2 separate regions of the Homo sapiens genome follow, and region 2 is linked to region 1. The links come from fine-mapping of genetic effects on gene expression. A gene starts in region 1. The other region holds a variant in brackets. All regions are shown on one strand. Distances are between the middles of the regions. Region 1 holds the start of DLGAP2 (DLG associated protein 2). Region 2 has its middle 11 kb from the start of FBXO25.

Evidence for each region. PIP is the estimated chance that this variant, and not a neighbour inherited with it, causes the effect. A credible set is the group of variants that fine-mapping cannot tell apart.
Region 2: its variant is the best candidate, but not a certain one, in a credible set for the expression of DLGAP2 in prefrontal cortex (BrainSeq, PIP 0.90).

The regions. Positions count from the first base shown.
Region 1 is chr8:735,213-739,531 of GRCh38, forward strand. It overlaps DLGAP2 (DLG associated protein 2), which reads left to right and starts at 2,416. Exons shown (of 15, transcript NM_001346810.2): 1 at 2,416-2,613. The coding sequence starts at 2,596. LOC124902044 (a long non-coding RNA gene) reads right to left here and starts at 1,818. Exons shown (of 2, transcript XR_007061156.1): 1 at 1,645-1,818; 2 at 822-1,005. LOC401442 (a long non-coding RNA gene) reads left to right here and starts at 3,336. Exons shown (of 1, transcript NR_134292.1): 1 at 3,336-4,319.
Region 2 is chr8:393,448-397,832 of GRCh38, forward strand. No RefSeq gene overlaps it. Among named protein-coding and RNA genes, the nearest start is that of FBXO25, 11 kb to the right of the region's middle. The variant G/A (reference allele first, on the strand shown) is at 2,732.

The sequences.
Region 1 (4,319 bases):
ACTTTGCGAGGCCGAGGCGGGTGGATCACGAGGTCAGGAGATCGAGACCATCCTGGCCAACATGGTGAAACCCCGCCTCTACTAAAAATACAAATACAAATAATAATAATAATAATGATAATAATAATAATAATAATAATAATAATAATAATAGCAGGGCATGGTGGTGTGCACCTGTAATCCAGCTACTCGGGAGGTTGAGGCAGGAGAATCGCTTGAACCAGGGAGTCAGAGGTTTCAGTGACCTGAGATAGTGCCACTGCACTCCAGCCTAGTGACAGAGTGAGACTCCGTCAAAAAAAAAAAAAAAAAGGCATCAAGTCCTTCTATCTCCCAAGGTCTTCAGGCCTGCTCTTATCTCCCTAAATCCTGTTCCCAGGGCCATGGCAGAGGCCACCTCTGATGCCACCCTCAATGTGCTCTCAGGTCCCCGTGCACTCCCCTGCTGGTTGGCCTCTGGACTTTCTTTGAAGCTTTGGGAGGTGCTCAACTTGGGGAGTGGGGTGTGTGGGTGAGGAGCAGCCCTCAGTCACTGGGACCTAGAAGCTGAAAAGCTGTCCAGCCTTCCTAAGCTGACGTGCACTCCAAGCTGCTCCTGTTAGAGCACCCCAGCAGGACGGGGCCCCGGTGGCCACAGGAGCAGCCCAGCGTCACCGCAGCCTCTGGGACGTCCTCTCCTGCCCTGCCTCTCTCTCCCTACTTCCTCTCTCTAGTTTCCTGGGATCGATCTCCCAAATGAACTACCTGCACCCAAATCCACACCTCAAAACCTGCTTGTGGGAGAACCCAGGGGGAGATTTAATAACGACGTCCTCAAAAAGTTCTTTTCTGATGTCACAAACTGTATTTGTTGCCCTTTTCACATTCACCAATAACACTCCATATGTTTCCTTCAGAGAATTATAACTTGTAATTGTCTGTTCCTTGGGTAACTTCTGGGCGGATCCCTCTCTAGACTGAAGGCTTCATGGGGCGGCAACCGTGGTTTTCTGTGCTGCTCACACGCTGAGAACACAGGAGAGGCCGTCAGTACATTTGTGTGATTTTCTTGTTGCGGTTGCATGAAATAATATATATATATATTTTTAAAAAACGTGAAGGGATGGGGACGAAATGCAGGGGAGGAAAGCAAAGGGAAAGTAAATTGTGAAATGAAAATAAATTGGCCTGGAATCTCTCCCTAGTTGAGGTTTGGGCGCTGAATGCACCTTTTTTTTTTTTTTTTTTGACAGTGGAGACCACTGATAGATTCGGGAAACATTTAGAAGAAATGGACAGCGGCCGGACTTCTTTCTCCCATTCACCTTTCTACCCCCTCGTCGTTTAGCACTCTGCCTTGAAAATAAACTGCAACTGATGAATATTTTGGTGATCAATTATACGGGGAATTCTTACAGAGCCTGTTTTTTGTTTAAAGATCTTGGAATTTCTGGAAAAGATTGGTTTGTCCATTCCAAATATTTTGGATGACCTGATTTCATTCTAACTCCCATCCGTCTTTCTATGCGGTTTGTTTTCGCATCTTTTACCTCATTTAAATGCCGTAGCCATGCAGGTGGAAAGCAGAAATCCATTTCTGCGTTTATGTTAAACTGGGGCTGAGAGACTTGCCCAGGGTCGGTGACCGCCCAGGGATCCCCATACCAGCGCGTCTAGCTCCCGCGTTCCGATCCCGGAAGGGAAAACCCATGATCCTGGCGAGGGTCCGTCCACACGTGGCCAGGGTGGCTGATCTTCCCGGCTGCTGTGGTTGTCAACACCACTTCTCCGGATCGATTTTCCCTTTTCCTCGGCTCTGTCGTCCATACGCCACTCACAGCAAACCCAGGCGGCGGGCCCCCTCCGAGGGCGCTCCTTGCGTCCGGACCCAGGTTCTCGGGGCGCCCCCCGGTGGGTCCCCGCGAAGCCGCCGCCGCACACCTTCCTCAGCGTAGCCCGCCAGTGGAAACCGGGGGAGGTTCTGCCTCCAGCACCCAAGCGGCGGCCGCACCTCGCAGTGAGACCCTCGCAAGCGCCCGCGCCTCCCTCGCCCCGCGTCCCCTCTGCCCCGCGAGCCCCCCTGGGCGCCGAGCCGACTCGAACCCGAGCGCGAGTCCCGCGCACAAACGCGCCGGCGCGTCTCTAACAGCGGTCCAGAAAGGCTGACCCTGCCCGGGGGCGACGGGTGTGACCGGGTCCCCCGCTAACTTTCGGGCGCGGTGAGCGTCGCCTGCGCGCGCCGCGGTGGAGGCCGCTGCTTTCCCGCCGGGAGCCCGGCACAGTCCCCGGGTGACCCGCGCGCCCCGCGCAACAGTTGGAGCCGGGCTGCCCGCGCGCTCCCCAAGCCGGGCCCTTCCCCAGATGCAGCCGCGCGCCGGCCGCCCCCCAGTGCGCCGGTGCCTCCCTGGGCGCCGAGTGCGCAGGCGCCGGCCGTGAAGACCGACCGTGCGCCGGGCTCGAGCGCGGTCTGAGCGCGCGGCGCCTGCGGCGGCGAACGGACGGACGGACCGCGGACGGACGTACTGACCCCAACCCGCGAGCCCCGGGAGCCGTCGGTCTGAGGAGGGGCCGCTTCGCCATGTCGCCCCGCACCTGCTGAGCCCGGAGCGTCCGAGGATGTCCGCGCTGAGGAAGGTGCGAGCCGCCGGGGGCTGCCGGGAGCCGGGCGCGGGGCTCCGAGAGCCGTCGAGGCGGGGAGGGCGCGGTGTGTCGGACCCGCGGGGACGCCCCGAGGGCGTCAGGGTTGGGGGCGGGGGCGAGCGGGGGTCGTGCCGCCCGCCGGGGCCGGAGCGCTGGGGACCCCAGGGACAGCCTGTGCTCGGGGGTCGCGCGTTGCGCTCCTCGCCGGGCTCCGCGCATCCCTGGCCGCGCTCGGGGGTGCCGGGACCCTGGGCTCCGGGGGTGCGGGAGCGCACGGGGCCGCGGAGGTGTGAAATTCTCCGCTCTGCCTGCCCGGGGTGGAGGGGGCAAAGCCTGGGGGGTGCCGGCGCGCCAGGGGCTACGCGCCTAGCTCCGGTGGGGCAGCTGCGAGCGAGTGGGGGCGGCGGGCAGCAGACTGCATCCCCCTCCCCCCAAGCCCGGGTGGAAACGCCGACGGGGACTGGGAATGAATGAAGGGTGCCGGGCTGGGCTGCGCGCACGGGGGCTCGCGGGGGCGGGGGCGACCAGGATGGGGCCCTTGTGCCGGGCAGCAGCGGCTGCCGAGACCAGGCGGAGTGGAGGGTGCGCGCAGCGAGGGGGTGGCCGCCGCCCGGCTCTCCAAGTGCGAGCGAGGAGCTCGGGGTCTTTTTTAGGGGTGGTTGCTAAGCGAGGCGCTACCCAGCGCAGGGTTTTGTAACTAAGCCTCCCCCGGCAGCGGCTGTTGCTGTCTCCGGCTCCTTCGCTAACGATTGCAGGAGAAATAATGAGGATGTAATTATTACAGCCCTGCGCGGAGGGCTGGGGGGCGGCGGACGCGGGCTCCTCTGCCTGCGCGCCCAGGTGGGGCTGGGCTGGGCTGGGCTGGGCTGGGCTGGACTGGACGCCTCTCCCCGCCCGGCCCTCCCTCAGCGCGCGGCGTGTGCGGTGCCCGAGGCTTCGGAGCAGGCTGGACCTGGGAACCCGGGGAGGGGCCTGGAGGAGAGATAGCTGGGCGAGGTGGGCGCCGGCGAGAAGGCGGAGCCCCCGGACAGCGTAGGTTCGCAGGTGGAGAGCGGACGCGGGGGCGAGGGTGCGCGGCGGGTCTGCGATGCGCGTCGGAAACTCGCGGCCCCCGGTCCCGGCCCTGCGCGCTTGGAGCCCGGGTCCTTCCAGCCCCTGCGCGACGCCGCCGCCGCCGCCGCCGGTGAATGGCGATCCCGGCCACGGCCTGGAATTGGAAATTCGTGACTTGTCGGCGGCCCCGGTCTTCTATCGATTAAAGATAAAGCGATCAGCAGTGAATTTATCCTTCGTGTGGATGAACTCGGCCAGCCCGGGCTGTGGGGGGTTTGGGAACTGTAAATATTCTCCAAAGCGCCGCCGCTTCTCCCGTCTTCCCGGACTCGAGGCTGGAGGCAGCTCCGGCGACGCGAAGGGGGGTACCCCCCGGAGAGGTCGGGCCTGGGGCGCGGCGGACAGAGACCCGGTCCCAGAGCCTGGCGGAGCCCGACAATCCGCCCTGTCAGGAGGAATCTCATCAACAGCCCGTGAATTAATTGTCCTTGCAGTTGGGAAATAACCCGGTACCTCGGCGTAGCCCGAGGGAGTCCAGGAGGCTCTCCAAGGAGCCTTCCCCCGGGTCGCGAAGCTGCGCTAAACCCCGGCCCCAGCGCACCTTGGAAGGCGCATTTTGGCCTGAGGTGAACGCACCTTACACCATT
Region 2 (4,385 bases), 340 kb before region 1:
AGATGTGCAGCGAGCAGGTCTGGCTCTCCTGCAGGCCAATCCTCACCCACCTGTGCCTCAGTTTCCTCTTTTGTAAAACAGGGACAAGGCAGTCCTCCTCTCGTAGCAATGTGGGGGTGGCTGAGGGAGCTGTGAGCATTTGTCCCTGGACCTAGGACAGGGTCTGGTGCGCCCTTTGAGACTGGGCCACCCTTTGAGCTCCTGCACTCCAGTGACTCCAGCAGCATCAACTGTGCTCCACTCACACGAAGATGCTCTCGACTGTAGACACACCACTGCGTTCATGGAACCAAGAGAGGAAAAACACTTCCAATTAAACTATGACAAGCCATGTAACTAAGATACATTCTGATTCCTGAAATGTGAGGCTGTGAACACCATGTGTGCCCCAGCATCTCTAAGACACCAGTGTCCCAAGGGAAGACACTGAGGACCATGGGGGGGCAGTGTCCAGCGGGGCATGATGGCTGAGCGGGCTGCTGGGGGCCAGCTGCCAAGCCAGGTGGGCTAGAGCCCGGGTCCCATACCATCTCCCCACCCAGGAGCTGGCGGAATGCGTCTTCACGTTGTTTTTGCTGTGGCTCCTGACTCTGCCAGCATGAAACACATTTATCTCAAAATTTCTCACGAACACATACTTGATATTATTGTTCTCAGAATATTTACTGGGAAAGGGCATAAGGACAAAAAGGCACTTTGTTTAGTAACATTTTACTGAATTTGTATTTAATTCATCACAAAAGCATCTGAGCACCTTGGTGGACCCAAAACCACACCTGGAGACATGTCAGTCTCAGACCACAGTTGCTAGAAGGGCCCTTATGACAACTCAGCATGTTCCCAGGGGTCCCAAGACCACAGCCTGGGACTCTGCACTCCAAAATGAGGTTTACAGCCCTTAGTCAGGTATGCAAGTTCTTAGCTTCTCGAGCAGCCTCCAAGATGGGAGCTCATTTAGAGCGGCCCCATACCCCCTTGAGCACCCCAACTCTGAGCCTCCCCAGCAGCCAGGTGTTGTCCTGCTGTGCAAAAACCCCTGATTGTTTTTAAGCTGGTGTCGACATGCTTCCCTGTCATTGACCCTCATTGTGCCTGTAAATCTGTGCTACACAATTCAGTTGTATGTTGTGGGATTCACTAAGAACCCTGCTGCAAGGTGGGTTGTTGCCCCCGAGGCACCTTCTTCAGAAGCCTGGATTTCTATCTATTAGTTCGTCTTCAAGGGTGGAATGGCTGCATGCATTTCCCACCCGTGCACCCTGCCCACGGTAGATCAGAAGGAAGATTAGTAGGAAGGAGTGTGCAGCAAAAGAAATGTTTTTTCCTAATCTCTAAGCAGACTATACAGACTGTCCCAGCCTTATCTCAGAGCCAGTAATGAATTAATCAAAACGCACAGAGCTGCTTCTGCAGGCGAGATGAGCACTGCTAAGAAGCTGCTGATAACATCCTTCAGGTGATCCTCTTTTTTTAAAAAAACATATATTTTGTCTCTATTGGATTATTTTGCTTCTCTCAGGGACATTGCAGCGGTTTATGCCCAGATCAGCATGAGCATGCCCAGATGCTCCAGGGTCCAGCACAATGACCACACCCAGCCCCTCTGTTACCTGCGGTGAGCACTGGTGAAGGGGAATGAGGAAGGCCCTGCTGCAGGGTGGGCAGTGTGGAGGGAGGGACTCGAAGGGGCCATGGGTCTGCTTTCTCGGGGAGGGACCATGGGTGCAGGCGACAGACACACCTGAGCACTTGCGGAATCATCTTCCTGACTTCTCGGCTCCGGGCTCCAGGGTCCAGTCCAGCTCCCATCCACACGGAAGGAAAAGGATGAACAAACTGAAAATCAACAACTCTTCTTCATCCGTCAGAGAACTGAGTCACCAGGCAAAGCACGGCCCCCAAATCTGGAGACACAGACAAGCGGGTTCCAAGAACCTCAGCTGACAGGAGCAGAACCTCTGCGGGGCCAATGCCACGGACTTGAGCTGCCCCTCATGAATTTCTGGAGATGCCACCTGGACAAGTGAGAGAAAAACTCCAGGGGAACCCAGTCATGGGGGACCTGCGCTTGGTGAATTTTACCTCCGAGAGCTCGACCAGGTTCCCACATTAGAGAGGAAAAATCAGCCGGGCGCGGTGGCTCACGCCTGTAATCCCAGCACTTTGAGAGGCCGAGGTGGGCCAGTTGCCTGAGCTCAGGAGTTCGAGTCCACCCTGGGCAACATGGTGAAACCTCGTCTCTACTAAAATACAAAAAATTAGCCAGGCGTGGTGGTGCGCGCCTATAGTCCCAGCTACTCAGGAGGCTGAGGCAGGAGAATCGCTTGAACCCAAAGGCAGAGGTTTCAGTGAGCCAAGATCGCGCCACTGCACTCCAGCCTGGGTGACAGAGGGAGATCCTGTCTCAAAAAAAAAAAAAAAAAAAAAAGGGAGAGAGGAAATATCCCCTCTTACTTACAGCCTACCTGGAGGTTGGCAGACATCCGAGTATGTCACACTTTCCTCCTCCTGTGCTGTATTCATTCCACAAATTTTTATGGCATATTGACCACACCCAGACCCTCTGTTACATCCTCTGTGGGAGGTCAAATACATGAAAATGACTTGGTGCTGTCTTCAGAGGCTGCAGTTCAGCCCAGCCACGTGAGGCCACCATCAAGACCGCCTTTCACCCAGAGCCCCTCAGGACTAGTATGGAGATTTGGGGAGTCTGAGTCTGCCCAGATTCTCT[G/A]ATTTGAATAGAGCAATAACACTTTATTTGCTTTACATGTTAACTGAAAGCCCAGTCAGTCACTGGAACAAAGAGTTTGAGCGTTTCAAAGTCAGGTAGGAATGCACTGATCTGTAGCAAGGTTCCAAGCCTGTCTACCCAGGATCAGCTGGAAAGATGTTTGATAATGGAGGGTGCAGGTTTTACCACCATTAAAATGAACGACACCTGGTGGAGGTACATTCCAGGGCTTTAGCAAGCTCCGCAGGTGAGCCTGGGTGCACAGCCTGGCAGACTTGGGAGCCGTGTGTCTAGACCCAGGGTGAAGGCGGTGCTGTGCATTAGGGCAACAAGCTGCTTGTTTATGCCCAGAGCTCACCCCAGAAAATCTGTGTAGGCATGACGGGGCTTGAGCATCCATATTTGACATAAACAGTACAATACTGCAGGTGACTCTAGTGCAAGCAGCTGGGGACCACAGGTGGAGAAGCATGGTGCAGAAGACCCTGAAATACAGGAACACAGCGCCAGCACATGTGCCGTGCTGGAGTTCTGCAAATGATGGCTTCAGCTCCACAGATGGTGGTTTCCCTTATAACAATTTGAGGCTTAAAAATAGGGCTTCACTTAAAAAGAACAGTGGATATTTCTGCGTGGTGGAATGATGAGTGGTTTGTAAATGTGTCTTCCTTATGTTTGTCTGAACCTTCTGGGTTTTTTTCTATCTTTATCCATTTATTGATGCAATAAATCTTAAGCATATAGTATATGCCACCTACTACATTGTTTCAGCAAAATGATAATAATTAATAATGTAATAATATACTAATTAATATAGGAGTACAACTAAGAAATCTGCTTTCTAAGCAATAATTTTAGAGAGGCATTTTTATCCTCCATAGTTTGGTTCTTGGCCTCCTCATTCATAGAAATCACATTATATACACTTCCGAGGAGCTTGTCAAAGCCTATTTAATCAATACCAAGCTGACATATTTTATTTGCTCCCTTCAAGTTGACCCATCTATTTTATAAATGTGCGGGGTGAGGCTTCCTCTTCTTCAGGTTCCTTTCCTGTATCTTTTTATTTTCTGCAACCTCTTATATTGTTCATAACCACATTTCTCTTATGAGTCATCTTCCCTGCTTTGAATCTCTAGTTAATACAGGAAAAGCTTCACACAAAGTACTGACAATGGTAGCAAATCAGTATCTTAATGTTCTATAGCTATATTAAACAAGCAAGGAGACTGTCAAACTTTAGTAAGTAAAAGAGCAACAGAATCTGCACATCTCCATTTACCAACCTTCTTCGTGCGTTCTTTCAGATACACCGTGTAATGAATAGACTCTTCTGGCCTAGAACAATAACATCCACAGATAAGACTGCTTATAGGAGAAATGTGTTCTGTAATTTGTCCATTCATTCATTTATTCACCAAGTATTTGTTTAGTGTCTGCTATGTGCCTGGACCTTGGACGCAACGGTAGACAAAAGAGACAAAAATTTCTGCCCTGGTGAAGCTTATGTCCTGCGGGTAGAGACAGAGAGAATAAATAGGTAGAAGACACAGTATGTTAAAAGGTGGAGAAATAAGCCCGTGTGAGGGGTCCCTGAGTGTGCGGAGTGGCAGCTCTAACTGAAATAGTAAGGGTAGAGCTAATAAGAAGTGGC